Regions from separate parts of the Homo sapiens genome. Here region 2 is linked to region 1. Evidence: fine-mapped expression QTL. A gene starts in region 1. The other region holds a variant in brackets. All regions are shown on one strand. Distances are between the middles of the regions.

Region 1 (8,319 bases):
CACCTGAGCCCCGCGTCGTGACCATGCCCACACTGGCTCCCACGCCCCCGTGGGCAGTGGAACAGCAGCGACTCGTTGCCCGCACAGCGGAAGGCCTCCGTCCACACCGGCCCCGAGCCCCGGCCGAAGCGGGCGCCCTCGGGCGTGGACACGACCGCCCCACACTGCAGCTCCCGGCACACCACGTGGGCCGTGGCCAGGTCCAGGGCCGCATCACAGACGGTGCCCCAGGTCACCTCCAGGCGCCCGGCGCAGGGGTGCTCGCCGCCCACCAGTCGGGCCTCGGTGTGTCCTGGGGGCAGACGTCCTCTCAGGCAGGAGACAGGTGTTCTCAGGTCAACAGCCTGGCCCTGAGCCTCAGACTGCGGAAGGCTTCAGCCAGGAGCCATCACCTGCATCTAGGCAGAGGGTCTACCAAGCACAGGCAGGAACTTGCAGCCACAGGCCCTTCCACCCGGCACCCAGAGCAGAGCAGACGTCCTTGGCCGCATCACCAAGGTCAGGGTCAGGGTCACCTGCTGCAGGTGCTCACGTATTTCACAGCCTCTGCCTGTCCGAGGCCATGACAGCAACACCCTCTGCAATCCCAGAGGCGAGGTCAGGGCACCCCTTGGTCCACTGAGCACCACCCTCTCTGGGGTACCGCAGCAGGCAGACTATCCACCTCATTTCAGCTGCTCCTCATATGCACAACAAGGCCAGGAGCTGTGAGGCCAGTGCAGCTCACACACAGTTGAGGCAGGGCTGGGAAGAAGTGACCTCTACCCAACCCCGATCCATGTTAGACATGCAGAGATCACAGCTGAGGCAGCTCAGACTTGCAGCGGCAGCCAGGACCCCTAGATGGCCTGCGGGTTCTGAGCCAGGACACCTCTGTGGGGCCACCAGAAACTCAGCTCCACTCTGCTGAGAACCAGCGTGAGAGCTGAGGCCCTTTCCCACCTCTGCGCCCAATGTCTCATGCAGGACAGGGGGGCCCATCCGTGGGAACGCCCACCCCCCTTCTCCCTGCCCTCCCCAGGTCCGGGCCCAGCATCATCCCAAGGGTCACTGGGAACATCAGGTGGCAGCCTCACCTGAGCAGACCACCTCTGCGTCCAGCCGCAGGTCGCAGCCGCTGCGGAAGTTGTTGTCCAGTCTGCAGCTGCGGATGGTGGGCTCGGTACCCCTGCAGGCCAGGTACTTCCTGACGACGCCCACGTCCCGGCGGGGGGCCTGGAGCACAGGGCCGCACCCCAGCTCCCGGCAGAACACCATGGCCTCCTCCACATGCAGGACACAGAGGCGGTCCACCCCATTCACGTTTCTGATCTCGGGGAGTCCCGCGCAGGGACTGCGGCCCTTCACCAGCCGGAGCTCCCGGAAAGTGCCGTCTGTGGAGCACAGGCCGGTCCTCCTTAAGGTATGGACCCAGCTGGCCGCATGGTCACTCGGCAGCTCCTTTTTCAGGGAGGACAGTGATGGGCTGAGCCAGGGCCAGCTTCAGGGGCAGGTGACCGGGCAGTCACACAGGGCCCTGGGCTCAGAGAGACCCCTGTGCCCAGCTTCATGCTCTGCTGCTGGTCTCCTGAAACAAGGTTCCCCGCAGGATCCGTTCACACTGGGCCCCAAAATGGTAGGAGGTCCTGGCCAGGTGGTTCAGCCTCAGAGGCAGGACGCTATGAGGGGGTCCTCACAGCCACATAAAATGTGAGGGACAGCTGAGGACCCTCGAGCCAGACCTCAAAGGGAAAGCGTGTACCTGTCTGTCATTTGTCTAAGAAACCATCATCAGCTACCTGTGTGGGCCTCAGGCGTCCACAGACCCCGCCCCCGCTCGGCTGCTGCCTCCCCCACGCCTGGGCCGCACTCTGCTTCCTTCCTCCAATCTCTGACTCTCCCTGGCGTTGGTTTTTCCACAGCTGAATCTTACAGTCAGGATGGCCCCGGTGCCCAGAGAGGAGCCCCTCCCAGAGAGAGCTCCAGACCCACAGCCTCCCCGCCCGTCTCCGAGACCCGCCATCCTCCCAGTCCTCCTCTGCGTCCTCCCAGTCCTCCTCCTCGTCCTCCCACTCCTCCTCCTCCTCAGCCCCGTCCCCTTCACTCCTCCCTACTTACTGGAGCACAGCGCGACCACCACCCATGCGTGGGGGCACGGGCTCTGGCACCATGAGCCAAGGCTGCACTCCCAGAGGGAGGACTCGTTGCCCCGGCAGGACACGTTGTGAAGCCAGGGCTGGGCCATCTCTCCAGGCAGCGGGACATACTTGGGGGCGCCCACGGCAGGGCCGCAGCCCAGCTGCCTGCACACGACAGAGGCCTCTGCCAGCGTCCACTCCTGGTTGCACACGTATCCCCATGCCCCGTGGTGTCGGACCAACACCACTCCGTCGCACGTGCTGTGTCTGTACGCCAGCCTCAGAGCACCTGGTCCACCTACAGACAGACAGGTCCAGTTAGAGGGGCCAGAACCAACCAGAGGCGCAGGAGGAGATGGCAGCCGCGGCAGCAGGGAACGGCCTGTGAGGCCTCAGCAGCGAGTCGGGCTCCTCTCACCCCACCAAGCAGTCCCAGAGAGGTGATGGGCGCGGCTCACAGAGAAACCCTCACCCCATGTGTCTCCCCGGGGGCTACTCCCCTCCCTGGCCCTCTGGAGCCCCAACATCCTGGAGGACCCCATCCCCCAGGCAAGGAAGTCCCCTGTCCTCCTGGGTCTGCAGCTGGGTGGGTCCTCCCACCCACTCTCTGCCTCCCAAGCATCATTCCCCTACTTCCACTGGAGGCCCTGTGGTCTCCAGCCCACCACTGTCACACCTGCCCCACCCACGTGACTGTCCACACCCCTTGGAGTGCCCCGCTCACCCTTCGGTCCTGTCCTCTGCAACCCTGAGTATCCAGGAAAACCACCCCTGCCTGCCCTCCCACTATGCCAAACCCAGCCCCACTACCCCACCCATACCGGCTTCCAGGCAGGATCTCACCCTCCGGTCTCTGAGCATCTCAGCTACTCCAGCACCTTCTCTCCCACCCGCCACGGAGGCACCCCTAACCACCCTCTCCAGGCCTCTGCAACCCCACATCAACACAGCCACCCCGAGGAAAATGAAGCAACCAGTAGGAGGAAGTCCATGTGGGTGGTGCTGTGTGGTCCCAGAGCAGCCTCCAGGGCCCCTGGAGGACTCTCCACACCCAGAAAAGAGCCTCCCCGATGGCAGTCAGGAGCAGAGGGGGGACCCTGCCTGGTCCAAGATGAAGACCTTTCCCTCCCACCTCCTGGGGAGCCTTGAATCTCCTCTCTCTCAGTCTTCATCCATCCCTCCACACCCCCCAGCCTCCTCATCACCCTCCCCACCTGGTTCTTCTCAGGACATGGATGCGTGCTGGTGTCTGCAATTTTTTCTTTTTTAGACAAAAGTCTCGCTCTGTCACTCAGGCTGGAGTGCAATGGCACGATCTCAGCTCACTGCAATGTCCACCTCCAGGGTTGAACTGATTCTCGTGCCTCAGCCTCCCATGTAGCGGGAATTATAGGCGCCCACTACCACGACTGGCTAATTTTTGTATTTTTAGTAGAGATGGGGTTTCACCATGTTGGCCAGGCTGATCTCGAACTCATGACCTCAGGTAAACTGCCTGCCTCAGCCTCCCAAAGTGCTGGGATTACAGCCATAAGCCACCACGCCCGCTATGAATAGCTTTTCATTTTATATTTTCTAAAGCTATTTCTTGTTGTAATAGAGAATTCCGGCCCTTGTGCATGCGATCGTTGACACAAAAGCAAATCCCTTCAACCCCAGGCTTCCATCCATCTGTGGCCACATTGCTGCCTTTCCTTCAAATCCTAACCTCCTCTGCACTTTCTGCAGCTGCCCACAGACTTCCACCCCACCGCTGGGGATGTGGCTCCGTCCAGCACCAGGTCACCGCCCTGCTGGGCACCTGGACCAGCCTTGACAGTGAAGTGTTCCTCAGCCTCAAGGGCACCCTCCCCTGCCTCCCGCCCAGCCCCACACTCACATCATGGCTCCATGCCCACGTACGCAGGTCCCCGGGGCTCCCTCTCACCTCCAGCCTCTCCTGCTGTTCCTTCTAGCTAGACCCCCCTCTCTACACCTCCCTGCCCCTGACCCAGCAGCCCTTCCACATGGCTTCACACCCCAGTGTCTCCACCTGGGTGCAGCATCTCCATGGGACCCCATGCTCAACCTCACTGCCAGATGCAGCCAACCCTCCCACCTCCTTCCCAGGACCTCAGCCCTGCTCCAGGGCACGTGGATGGAGCAGCCCCCGCAGGACCCCTCAGGACTCTGTTGATCAGGGTCATTGGGACCAGACACTGGGCCGTGTCCCTCATTTTGTCCAGGGCCTGACCCAGCCCTGAACCCTGGGTTCCAAGCAGTGGGGCTAGGGTCTGGGGGCCCTGAGGTCACAGGGATCCAGCCATGTGGAGTCACCTCCCTCCTGCCCCAGCATGTCCCACCCACTCTGGGCTGAGTGAGACCCAGGCAGACGGCAGGTCACTGCAGGGACCCTCATGCCCCGGGGCCTGGGCATCAACAGAGCTGATGCCTCCAGAAAGTTCCATGGATGAAGGAAGCAGAAACTTACCAATGGGGACTGCCCAGAGATTCAGAAGAAGGGGCCCGAGTCCCAGGGTCCAGAGAGCTGCCCTCATGGTCCCACAGCCCTCTGGGCTTCAGCAAGCTCTCGCTGCTTAGCTGGGGCAATGGCAGAGGTCACAGCCCAGAGTCACATATACAGAAGTGGGAGCTGCCAAGGACCTCCAGGGTCCAATGGGGACAGCCACAGCCTTTCCAGAGCGAATCAGCAGCTCTGCCTCTCAGCCGTGAGCAGAGCAGCCAATGCCTTGCTGGCCTGAGCATCACCAGACATGGGGAGGGTGCAGGCTGTGGGTTTCCTCCCACACTGATCAAGCTGCTGATGGGACTAGACCCAACCATCAGGCAGAGATGGTCCAACCTGCCCACAGCACAGCATCAGTGAAGCCCTGCGTCTCTGCCCTCCACCCGGGCCCGTCGGCTTCAGCCATGCCACCACCACAGAAGGCAGTGGCCCCAGACAGCCAAGGAGGCGTCCTCTGTGCCAGCAGATGGCACTAGCAGAGTTAGGGGTAGGGGTAGGATTAGGGTTTGAGTGGGAGTCCCAGCAGCACCAGAAGAATGACACGGAAGAGCTTTGCAAGAACTCTGAGAACTGAACTGTCGTTGGAATGAAAACCCTTGAGAGAAGATACAGTTAAGAATCACTCATCATATGAAGACCCAGGGACACGACCATTTCAGTAAGAGACAACCAACTAAGGGCGGCACCAGGAAGAGTCAGGTGTCAGAATTATCTGACAAGGATTTTAAAACAGGCATCATAAAAATGTTTCCACAACAAATTGCAAATGCTCTTGAAATAAGTGGAAAAATTGAAATCTCAGCAAAGAAATAGAAGTTATAAAAATGGAACAGGCTAGGCGCAGTGGCTCACGCCTGTAATCCTAGCACTTTGGGAGGCTGAGGTGGGCAGATACCTGAGGTCAGGAGTTCGAGACCACCCTGGCCAACATGGTGAAACCCTGTCTCTACTAAAAATACAAAAATTAGCCGGGCAGGGTGACATGCACCTGTAGTCCCAGCTACTCGGGAGGCTGAGGCATGAGAATGGCGTGAGCCCAAGAGGCGGAGGTTGCAGTGAGCTGAGATTGCACCACTGCACTCCAGCCTGGGTGACAGAGCAAGACTTTGTCTTAAAAACAAAATGAAACAGTGGTAAGGATGTAGAGAAATGGGACCTCTCAGATTTTGCTGGTAGATTCAAAAATGGTGCAACTGCTTTGAGAAAGTTTGGCAGTTTGTCAAAATGTTAAACAGAGATACTCCTGGAAGATACCACTTGAGCCCAGAAGGGGCAACTCCACTCTTGGGTACATATCTAAGAGGAATGTAAACTTATGTCCACACAAAAATCTCTACATGAATGTCCATGCAGCATTATTCATAATAAAGATGAAAACAGCTCACGTGTGCATCCACTGATAAATGGAGAAACAAAATGCGGTATGTCCACATTATGGAATGTCACTCAGCCATAGAAAGGGAACAAGGCACCCACACAGGCTGGATGTGCGTCAACCTTGAAAACATGCTCAGTGAGAGAAGCCAGATGTAAAAGACCACATACTGGGTACGATTCCATTCATATGAGATTTCCAGAATAGGCAAATCAATAGACAAGGAAATTAGATTCATGGTTTCCAGGGGCTAGAGAAGGAGGAAAGAGAAAATGACTGAAAATAGTATAGTGTTTTTCTTTTTTATTTTTATTTATTTATGTATTTATATATTCATTTATTTATTGGGAGACAGAGTCTCACTTTCTCATCCAGGCTGGAGTGCAGTGGCATGATCATAGCTCACTGCAGCCTCAACTTCCTGGCCTCAAGTGATCTTCCTACCTTAACCTCCTGAGTAACTGGGACTATAGGTGCATGCCACCATGTCTGGCTAATTTTTTAAATTTTTTTGTAGAGATGGAAAGCCTTGCCATGTACCCAGGCTGGTCTCAAACGCCTGGCCTCATCGGACCCTCCCACCTTGGCCTCCCAAAGTGCTGAGATTACAGGTGTGAGCCACCACAGCCAGCTACAGGATTTCTTTTTCAGGTGATGAAAATGTTCTGAAATTAGTGGTGCTGGTTGCATAATCCTGAATATACTAAAATCCTCTGCACCACACACTTTAAAAGAGTGCATTTATGATACATGAACCTCAATTAAATTGTTTTTAAAATAAATGATTACAGAACTGAAAATATAATAACTGAAATGTTAAAAACTCAATGAACGGACTAGTAGAATGGAAATGACAGAGGAACCAGTGAACCTGATGATACTTCAATAGAATTTACACAGTGCAAACAACAGAGAGAAAATAGAAAAATTTATAGAGCCTCGGGGATCTGTGGGACAATAATAACAAGACTTAATCTTTGTATCTGGGAAATTCAGGAAAGATAAGAGAGCGTATGGGGCTGAAAATGTATTTAAAGTAACAACTACTAAATATTCTCCAAATATGGTGAAAGGCACAAAACTACAGATTCAAGAAGCTGAGAAATCCAAAATAAGATGAATTCAAAGACATTCACACCAAGACACATCATAATTAAACGTTTGGAAACCAAAGGAAAAAAAAATCCTAAAAACAGCCAGACAAAAAGGATTGCACTGACTATAAAAAATGGTAAAATGTGAATTACAGCTAATTTCTCGTCTGAAATGGAAGCAAGCAGGAAGTGCCTTATTTTTAATTGACATGTAAGAATTGTACATATTTATGGGATACAGAGTGATACTTTGATACATGTGTGCAATGCATAATGATCGAATCAGGGTAACTACCAAACCCATCAAACATTTATCATTTATCTGTTGGGAACATTCAAAACCCTCTCTTCTAGCTATTTGAAAATACACAACAAGTTATTTTGAATTATAGTCACCCTACAGAGCTACAGAACACTGGAACTTATTCCTCTGTAACTTTGTATTTATTAAACAACCTCTCCCTATCTGCTTCTCCCCTAACCCTTACCAGTCTCTAGTAACTCTAATTCTACTCTACTAATATGAGGTCAATTTCTTAGTCCCGACATGTGAGTGACAACTAGCAGTATTGCAGTATTGATATTTTTGTACCTGATTTATTGCACTTAATAGAATGTCCTACATGCACACACTGCCACAAATGGCAAGTTTTTTTTTTTTTTTTTGAGATGGAGTTTCACTCGTGTTGCCCAGGCTGGAGTGCAATGGTGCAGTCTCGGCTCACTGCAACTTCCGCCTCCCAGGTTCAAGCGATTCTTCTGCCTCAGCCTCCCAAGTAGCTGAGATTACAGGCACATGGCACCACGACCAGCTAATTTTTGTATTTTTAGTAGAGACAGGGTTTCGCCATGTTGGCCAGGCTGGTCTTGAAATCCTGACCTCAGGTGATCCACCTGCCTTGGCCTCCCAAAGTGCTGAGATTACAGGTTTCTTTAATCTACTTATTTTTTTTCTTGAGACACCCCCAGGGTCTCATTCTGTGGCCCAGGTTGGAGTGCAGTGGCATGATCTTGGCTCACTGCAACCTCTGCCTCCTGGACTCAAGTAATCCCCCTACCTCAGCCTCCCTTGTAGCTGGGACCACAGGTGCATGCCACCACACCCAGATAATTTGTTTTTTTTTTTTTTTTTTTTTGTAGAGATGGGGTTTCACCATGTTGCCCAGGCTGGTCTCAAACTCCAGGACTCAAGCAATCCACCAGTCTTGGCCTCCCAAAGTGCTGGGA
Region 2 (8,319 bases), 22 kb before region 1:
TTGCTCGCTGTCCTGCTGAGACTCTCTGGGACCTGTCCCCTTGCTCGCTGTCCTGCTGAGACTCTCTGGGACCTGTCCCCTTGCTCGCTGTCCTGCTGAGACTCTCTGGGACCTGTCCCCTTGCTCGCTGTCCTGCTGACACTCTCTGGGACCTGTCCCCTTGCTCGCTGTCCTGCTGAGACGCTCTGGGACCTGTCCGCTTGCTTGCTGTCCTGCTGAGACTCTCTGGGACCTGTCCGCTTGCTCGCTGTCCTGCTGAGACTCTCTGGGACCTGTCCGCTTGCTCGCTGTCCTGCTGACACTCTCTGGGACCTGTCCGCTTGCTCGCTGTCCTGCTGAGACTCTCTGGGACCTGTCCCCTTGCTCGCTGTCCTGCTGACACTCTCTGGGACCTGTCCGCTTGCTCGCTGTCCTGCTGACACTCTCTGGGACCTGTCCGCTTGCTCGCTGTCCTGCTGAGACTCTCTGGGACCTGTCCCCTTGCTCGCTGTCCTGCTGAGACTCTCTGGGACCTGTCCGCTTGCTCGCTGTCCTGCTGACACTCTCTGGGACCTGTCCCCTTGCTCGCTGTCTTGCTGAGACTCTGGGACCTGTCCGCTTGCTCGCTGTCCTGCTGAGACTCTCTGGGACCTGTCGGCTTGCTCGCTGTCCTGCTGAGACTCTCTGGGACCTGTCCCCTTGCTCGCTGTCCTGCTGAGACTCTCTGGGACCTGTCCCCTTGCTCGCTGTCCTGCTGAGACTCTCTGGGACCTGTCCGCTTGCTCGCTGTCCTGCTGAGACTCTCTGGGACCTGTCCCCTTGCTCGCTGTCTTGCTGAGACTCTGGGACCTGTCCGCTTGCTCGCTGTCCTGCTGACACTCTCTGGGACCTGTCCGCTTGCTCGCTGTCCTGCTGAGACTCTCTGGGACCTGTCCCCTTGCTCGCTGTCCTGCTGAGACTCTCTGGGACCTGTCCGCTTGCTCGCTGTCCTGCTGACACTCTCTGGGACCTGTCCCCTTGCTCGCTGTCTTGCTGAGACTCTGGGACCTGTCCGCTTGCTCGCTGTCCTGCTGAGACTCTCTGGGACCTGTCGGCTTGCTCGCTGTCCTGCTGAGACTCTCTGGGACCTGTCCGCTTGCTCGCTGTCCTGCTGAGACTCTCTGGGACCTGTCCGCTTGCTCGCTGTCCTGCTGAGACTCTCTGGGACCTGTCCCCTTGCTCGCTGTCTTGCTGAGACTCTGGGACCTGTCCGCTTGCTTGCTGTCCTGCTGAGACTCTCTGGGACCTGTCGGCTTGCTCGCTGTCCTGCTGAGACTCTCTGGGACCTGTCCGCTTGCTCGCTGTCCTGCTGAGACTCTCTGGGACCTGTCCCCTTGCTCGCTGTCCTGCTGAGACTCTCTGGGACCTGTCCCCTTGCTCGCTGTCCTGCTGAGACTCTCTGGGACCTGTCCCCTTGCTCGCTGTCCTGCTGAGACTCTCTGGGACCTGTCCGCTTGCTCGCTGTCCTGCTGAGACTCTCTGGGACCTGTCCGCTTGCTCGCTGTCCTGCTGAGACTCTCTGGGACCTGTCCGCTTGCTCGCTGTCCTGCTGAGACTCTCTGGGACCTGTCCGCTTGCTCGCTGTCCTGCTGAGACTCTCTGGGACCTGTCCGCTTGCTCGCTGTCCTGCTGAGACTCTCTGGGACCTGTCCGCTTGCTCGCTGTCCTGCTGAGACTCTCTGGGACCTGTCCCCTTGCTCGCTGTCCTGCTGAGACGCTCTGGGACCTGTCGGCTTGCTCGCTGTCCTGCTGAGACTCTCTGGGACCTGTCCCCTTGCTCGCTGTCCTGCTGAGACTCTCTGGGACCTGTCCCCTTGCTCGCTGTCCTGCTGAGACTCTCTGGGACCTGTCCCCTTGCTCGCTGTCCTGCTGACACTCTCTGGGACCTGTCCCCTTGCTCGCTGTCCTGCTGAGACGCTCTGGGACCTGTCCGCTTGCTCGCTGTCCTGCTGAGACTCTCTGGGACCTGTCCCCTTGCTCGCTGTCCTGCTGAGACTCTCTGGGACCTGTCCCCTTGCTCGCTGTCCTGCTGAGACTCTCTGGGACCTGTCCCCTTGCTCGCTGTCCTGCTGACACTCTCTGGGACCTGTCCCCTTGCTCGCTGTCCTGCTGAGACGCTCTGGGACCTGTCCGCTTGCTCGCTGTCCTGCTGAGACTCTCTGGGACCTGTCCGCTTGCTCGCTGTCCTGCTGAGACTCTCTGGGACCTGTCCGCTTGCTCGCTGTCCTGCTGACACTCTCTGGGACCTGTCCGCTTGCTCGCTGTCCTGCTGAGACTCTCTGGGACCTGTCCCCTTGCTCGCTGTCCTGCTGAGACTCTCTGGGACCTGTCCGCTTGCTCGCTGTCCTGCTGACACTCTCTGGGACCTGTCCGCTTGCTCGCTGTCCTGCTGAGACTCTCTGGGACCTGTCCCCTTGCTCGCTGTCTTGCTGAGACTCTGGGACCTGTCCGCTTGCTCGCTGTCCTGCTGAGACTCTCTGGGACCTGTCGGCTTGCTCGCTGTCCTGCTGAGACTCTCTGGGACCTGTCCGCTTGCTCGCTGTCCTGCTGAGACTCTCTGGGACCTGTCGGCTTGCTCGCTGTCCTGCTGAGACTCTCTGGGACCTGTCCCCTTGCTCGCTGTCCTGCTGAGACTCTCTGGGACCTGTCCCCTTGCTCGCTGTCCTGCTGAGACTCTCTGGGACCTGTCCGCTTGCTCGCTGTCCTGCTGAGACTCTCTGGGACCTGTCCCCTTGCTCGCTGTCTTGCTGAGACTCTGGGACCTGTCCGCTTGCTCGCTGTCCTGCTGACACTCTCTGGGACCTGTCCGCTTGCTCGCTGTCCTGCTGAGACTCTCTGGGACCTGTCCCCTTGCTCGCTGTCCTGCTGAGACTCTCTGGGACCTGTCCGCTTGCTCGCTGTCCTGCTGACACTCTCTGGGACCTGTCCGCTTGCTCGCTGTCCTGCTGAGACTCTCTGGGACCTGTCCCCTTGCTCGCTGTCTTGCTGAGACTCTGGGACCTGTCTGCTTGCTCGCTGTCCTGCTGAGACTCTCTGGGACCTGTCGGCTTGCTCGCTGTCCTGCTGAGACTCTCTGGAACCTGTCCGCTTGCTCGCTGTCCTGCTGAGACTCTCTGGGACCTGTCCCCTTGCTCGCTGTCCTGCTGAGACTCTCTGGGACCTGTCCGCTTGCTCGCTGTCCTGCTGAGACTCTCTGGGACCTGTCCCCTTGCTCGCTGTCTTGCTGAGACTCTGGGACCTGTCCGCTTGCTCGCTGTCCTGCTGAGACTCTCTGGGACCTGTCGGCTTGCTCGCTGTCCTGCTGAGACTCTCTGGGACCTGTCCGCTTGCTCGCTGTCCTGCTGAGATTCTCTGGGACCTGTCCGCTTGCTCGCTGTCCTGCTGAGACTCTCTGGGACCTGTCCGCTTGCTCGCTGTCCTGCTGAGACTCTCTGGGACCTGTCCGCTTGCTCGCTGTCCTGCTGAGACTCTCTGGGACCTGTCCCCTTGCTCGCTGTCCTGCTGAGTCGCTCTGCGACCTGTCCGCTTGCTCGCTGTCCTGCTGAGACTCTCTGGGACCTGTCCCCTTGTTCGCTGTCCTGCTGAGACTCTCTGGGAAAGTTTGCTGTTGGCAACTTTGCTGCAGAAAGCACATAATTAAGATGTTAACATGGGTCCCTGCGCCCAGGGAGAATCAGAGCATTAACCCTCCACTCTGCGAGGGAGTCAACAAGCCCAGCGTCACTCACCCCCGAGGACAGTGCTCCCTGCCGGCCTGCAGCGGGGCTGGCATCACAGTAAATAACAAAAATGCAGCAAGAGCCTCTCATTGCTTTGATTTTAAACATTTCCTCCATTATTCCAGCACACAGAAGCTCGTGGTGTGCAAGTGTGTTTGGCCCCCGAGGCAGGTGGAGACCACATCAGTGACCTGGGCACAAGATTCTGGGTCGCGGAGAAGGAAAACCACCCAGCAGGCATGGGCTTTATGGAGAGTTAGCGTCAGGACAGCACAGGTTTCACCTGCAGAGGCTGTGAGGGGCACTCTCCAAAGGGAGGCATGTGGGGACATCAGGGCAGTGAGTGGCTCCAACTACCACCAGGCCAGACTCCAGCTCTTTTGGCCAGGTGACCTCAGCTGTCAGATTTCAGCTGTAGGTTGACCTGGCCACAGCTCCTTAGTAGAAACCATGACTGCGGCCCTACCTCAGCCACCCCAGGCCGCTCCCTCAGGAGGGCAGACTCCATGCAGAAGCGGGCATGGACTGGCCATTCCTGTTCCTGGTCTGGGTGGGAGGTTTGTTCCATCAGGGGGTGTCAGGCTGTGTCCGAGACTGGATACATCAAAGAAAGGCACAGACCCAGCCTCGGTGCAGCCCCTAATCCAGTGCCTCCACTCAACCAACCTCACATACCTCTCCCACCACCCATCTCTGACCACCTAGCCTCCTCGGGCAGGACAGGCCCAGCCCAGGGCAAGGAGAGG[C/T]GGCTTAGTCAACATCAGAGGAAACAAGGCCAAACCCACTTCCTTCCCAGCCCAGGAGGCACCCAGCCCAGGTAGTCTTCAACCCAGGCAGCCTTCAGCTGCAGTCCTCAGCCCAGGCAGTCCTCAGCCCAGGCAGTCCTCAGCCCAGGCAGTCCCCCCAGCCCAGGCAGTCCCTCAGCCCAGGCAGTCCTCAGCCCAGGCAGTCCCCCCAGCCCAGGCAGCCCTCAGCCCAGGCAGTCCCCCCAGCCCAGGCAGTCCTCAGCCCAGGCAGCCCTCAGCCCAGGCAGTCCCCCCAGCCCAGGCAGTCCCTCAGCCCAGGCAGTCCTCAGCCCAGGCAGCCCTCAGCTCAGGCAGTCCCAAAGACCTCCTGGCTGCCCAGTCTGAGGCCCGAAATCCATCCTCCATCACAGGAGCCCCATTTGCCTGTGAAACCAAGGGCAGGTGGAGCCTTGCACCAGATTCACAGGAAGCTTCCAGGCCCCTCTTACAGATCCTGATCTGCCTTAAAGGCCAAACCACGGGGCTCCGGCTTCTTGCTCACCTGATCGAGGGCACAGATAGGGCACAGTGCAGGCCCACAGAGGTTCCCAGGCACTTAGAGTTTCAAACGGAAACCCTCAACACAACAGCAAAGCAATTTCAGCAACATTTTTTCCACATTAATGTAGGTCAGGGCAGGGTAGAATCAGATCTGACTTTTCAAAAACATTGAAAGGAAAATTAGGTGGGTCATCCATGTGGAAGGCAGGCATGGAGGGTTGCAGCCACTCACTGAGTGAGGAGTGTGGCTAGGCCAGCTCCTGTCTAAATGGGAGCCCACATGTCCATGGACATGATGGTGCCTCAAGGCTGACGCCCGTCTCTTCCCAGTCAGTGTCTCCTGTGTTTGATGCTGACCTTTGAGTGAAGTCTGTCCCCTCGGGGTGGATGCTGAGGTTGCTACAGAGGCCCACGTGTCCCCAGGAGCGGCTCTCAGGGAGCAATTACCCCACTCGGAGGTAGAAAGGGGTCCCCATGGGAACCGCCCCCAGGCTCGAGCAGAGACAGGCCAGGGCACCTGCAGGGCTTCTGGGTGATGGACCTGGGGAGATCAATTCCAGAGCTGGTGGCTTCTCCCCAGCACCTCTGCCCTGGGCACACAAGGGCCATGTGCAACCCTCCCTGCAGGAGGATGGAATTTTATTTAAATAGACTTAATCTTTTAGAATAGTTTTAAATTTGCCCCCACCCAGTTTCCCGTTACTGACATCTCCCATTAGCATGTGTTACATTAATGTGCCAGTATCGATCCTATACTGTCAACTGCAATCCATGGCTGATTCCCAGTTCCTCCGTGTTCCCCTAACGTCCTTCTGTCCACATCACAGTTAGGAGTTTCCTTAGGCTTCTCTTGACTGCAGCATTTTCTCAGACTTTCCTTGCTTTTGATGAACTTGGTAGTTTTGGAGAATATTGGCCAGGTATTTTGTATCTTCCAGGTATTCCCTTGACTGGGATTCGCCTGATTATTTTTTTACTCATGATGAAAGTTACGGGTTTTGGGGCGGAAAGACACAGAGGCACGTGACATTCTCATCACACCACACCGGGATGCACACTGTCAGCATGTCTGGCTGTTGATGTGAACTCGGGAAGGTAAATATTTTCATCACAATTCTTATGTGCCCATCCAGACGCTGAGGTGGCCTGCAGTGTCCAGGGAGACACTGTCCTGACTTCAAGGATGGAGCATCCAAAGGGTCTGAGGAGACTAAGAGTCTTCTGGCAGGCTGAAGCCCAGACCCCCACTCTGCACTCAGCAGGCCTGGCCACGTAGATGAGGCATTGTGAGCCCATGGGGGTTGACTCACTTCCTTGTTTGGGCCAAAGGCCCACAACTGATTGGTAAAGCAGTGTAGGTGGTCACAGCAAGTGCCCACAGGTAGAACTGAGATGATAATTGTGCTCAGGAGAAACCTAGCAATTTATCTTAGAGACCAAGTGCAGAAAATAAGACATGGAGAAAACAGTCATTGCAAAAGAACCAGAGACGTGGCCATGGCTGATTTAAAGTGCTTCTTAATTTCATCACAGGAAGACAACTGGCCCCTTTAATTTTCCAAACCTTCTAACATCCTTCAACTCAATCAATCGGCACATGTTTTTAATCTCTGGCCAATGATTATCTATTTTCCATGACAGTATATGTAATAGCATTTCAGCAACCCAAGATTTGAACACTTCCTCTAATTTATTCAAATGTGTTATAACCTTCAGCTATGCCGGATTTTCCTAATCAAACACACCACTTTTCTTTAAAAATAATGTTGATTTATAAAAACATTCAGTATCAAAGGTCACTGCAACACTGATTTAAGGTTATTTCATGGCCCACAATAAGTAACCATATTTGTAGCATTTAAACCTCAAAATCCAAGCTAAGTGGTAAGATGTGGGAGCACCTGCTACATACCTGGAATTGTCCTAGGGCTACGGGGATCCTCAAAGCCCAATGAGAGTCCCTCATCTTCCAACGTTTTGGGATCCTCAGGCAGCAGGGCCATCCCCAGCAAGACTCAGCAGGTCTGAGCCACCTGACCACCGTCAACCAGGCACTCCCTGGGGGACCCTGTGCTCAGCCTATGGGAAACAAGCTAAGCAAAGGAGCTTCTTCAACTCTGGGGTCGGTGAGACACCCACCAACAATTAGACACAGGATGTTCCCTTGGGAGGGGTCTCTGTATTCATCTGTTCTCACACTGCTATAAAAAAATACCTGAGACTCTGTAATTTTTAAGAAAAAAAGGTTTAATTGGCTCATGGTTCTGCAGGCTGTACAGGAAGGAGAGTGGTATCTGCTTCTGGGGAGGCCTCAGGAAGTTTCCAGTCATGGTGGAAGGTGAAGGGGGAGCAGGTGCCTCACATGGCAAAAGAGGAACAAGAAAGAGGGGGAGACACCACACTCAATGACCAAATCTCAGGAGGGAGATGCCACACTCAACTGAACACATCTCAGGACGGAGACGCCACACTCAACAACTTACATCCCAGGAGGGAGACGCCACACTTTCCACTGACCAGATCTCAGGAGGGAGACACCATACTCAATGACCAGATCTCAGGAGGGAGACGCCACACTCAACGACCAGATCTCAGGAGGGAGACGCCACACTCAACGACCAGATCTCAGGAGGGAGACGCCACACTTTCCACTGACCAGATCTCAGGAGGGAGACGCCACACTTTCAACTGACCAGATCTCAGGAGGGAGACGCCACACTTTCCACTGACCAGATCTCAGGAGGGAGACGCCACACTTTCAACTGACCAGATCTCAGAAGGGAGACGCCACACTCAACGACCAGATCTCAGGAGGGAGACGCCACACTCAACTGACCAGACCTCAGGAGGGAGACGCCACACTCAACTGACCAGATCTCAGGAGGGAGACGCCACACTCAACTGACCAGATCTCAGGAGGGAGACGCCACACTCAACTGACCAGACCTCAGGAGGGAGACGCCACACTCAACTGACCAGACCTCAGGAGGGAGACGCCACACTCAACTGACCAGATCTCAGGAGGGAGACGCCACACTCAATGACCAGATCTCAGGACGGAGACGCCACACTTTCAACTGACCAGATCTCAGGAGGGAGATGCCACACTCAACTGACCAGACCTCAGGAGGGAGACGCCACACTCAACGACTAGATCTCAGGAGGGAGACGCCGCACTCAACAACCAGATCTCAGGAGGGAGACACCACATTCATCACCGTCTAATAATTTTGCTAAAATTCTCATTTTTTCTACATACTATTCTTTTCAGTAAAGTTAATTCATTATGTGTATAA

The links. PIP is the estimated chance that this variant, and not a neighbour inherited with it, causes the effect. A credible set is the group of variants that fine-mapping cannot tell apart.
Region 2: its variant is the best candidate, but not a certain one, in a credible set for the expression of SCART1 in esophagus muscle (GTEx, PIP 0.68).

Annotation. Positions count from the first base shown.
Region 1 is chr10:133,450,333-133,458,651 of GRCh38, reverse strand. It overlaps SCART1 (scavenger receptor family member expressed on T cells 1), which reads right to left and starts at 4,707. Exons shown (of 12, transcript NM_001396050.1): 1 at 4,588-4,707; 2 at 2,098-2,415; 3 at 1,077-1,373; 4 at 1-292. The coding sequence starts at 4,654. RefSeq lists an enhancer at 4,933-4,982.
Region 2 is chr10:133,472,220-133,480,538 of GRCh38, reverse strand. No RefSeq gene overlaps it. Among named protein-coding and RNA genes, the nearest start is that of SCART1, 22 kb to the right of the region's middle. The variant C/T (reference allele first, on the strand shown) is at 4,484.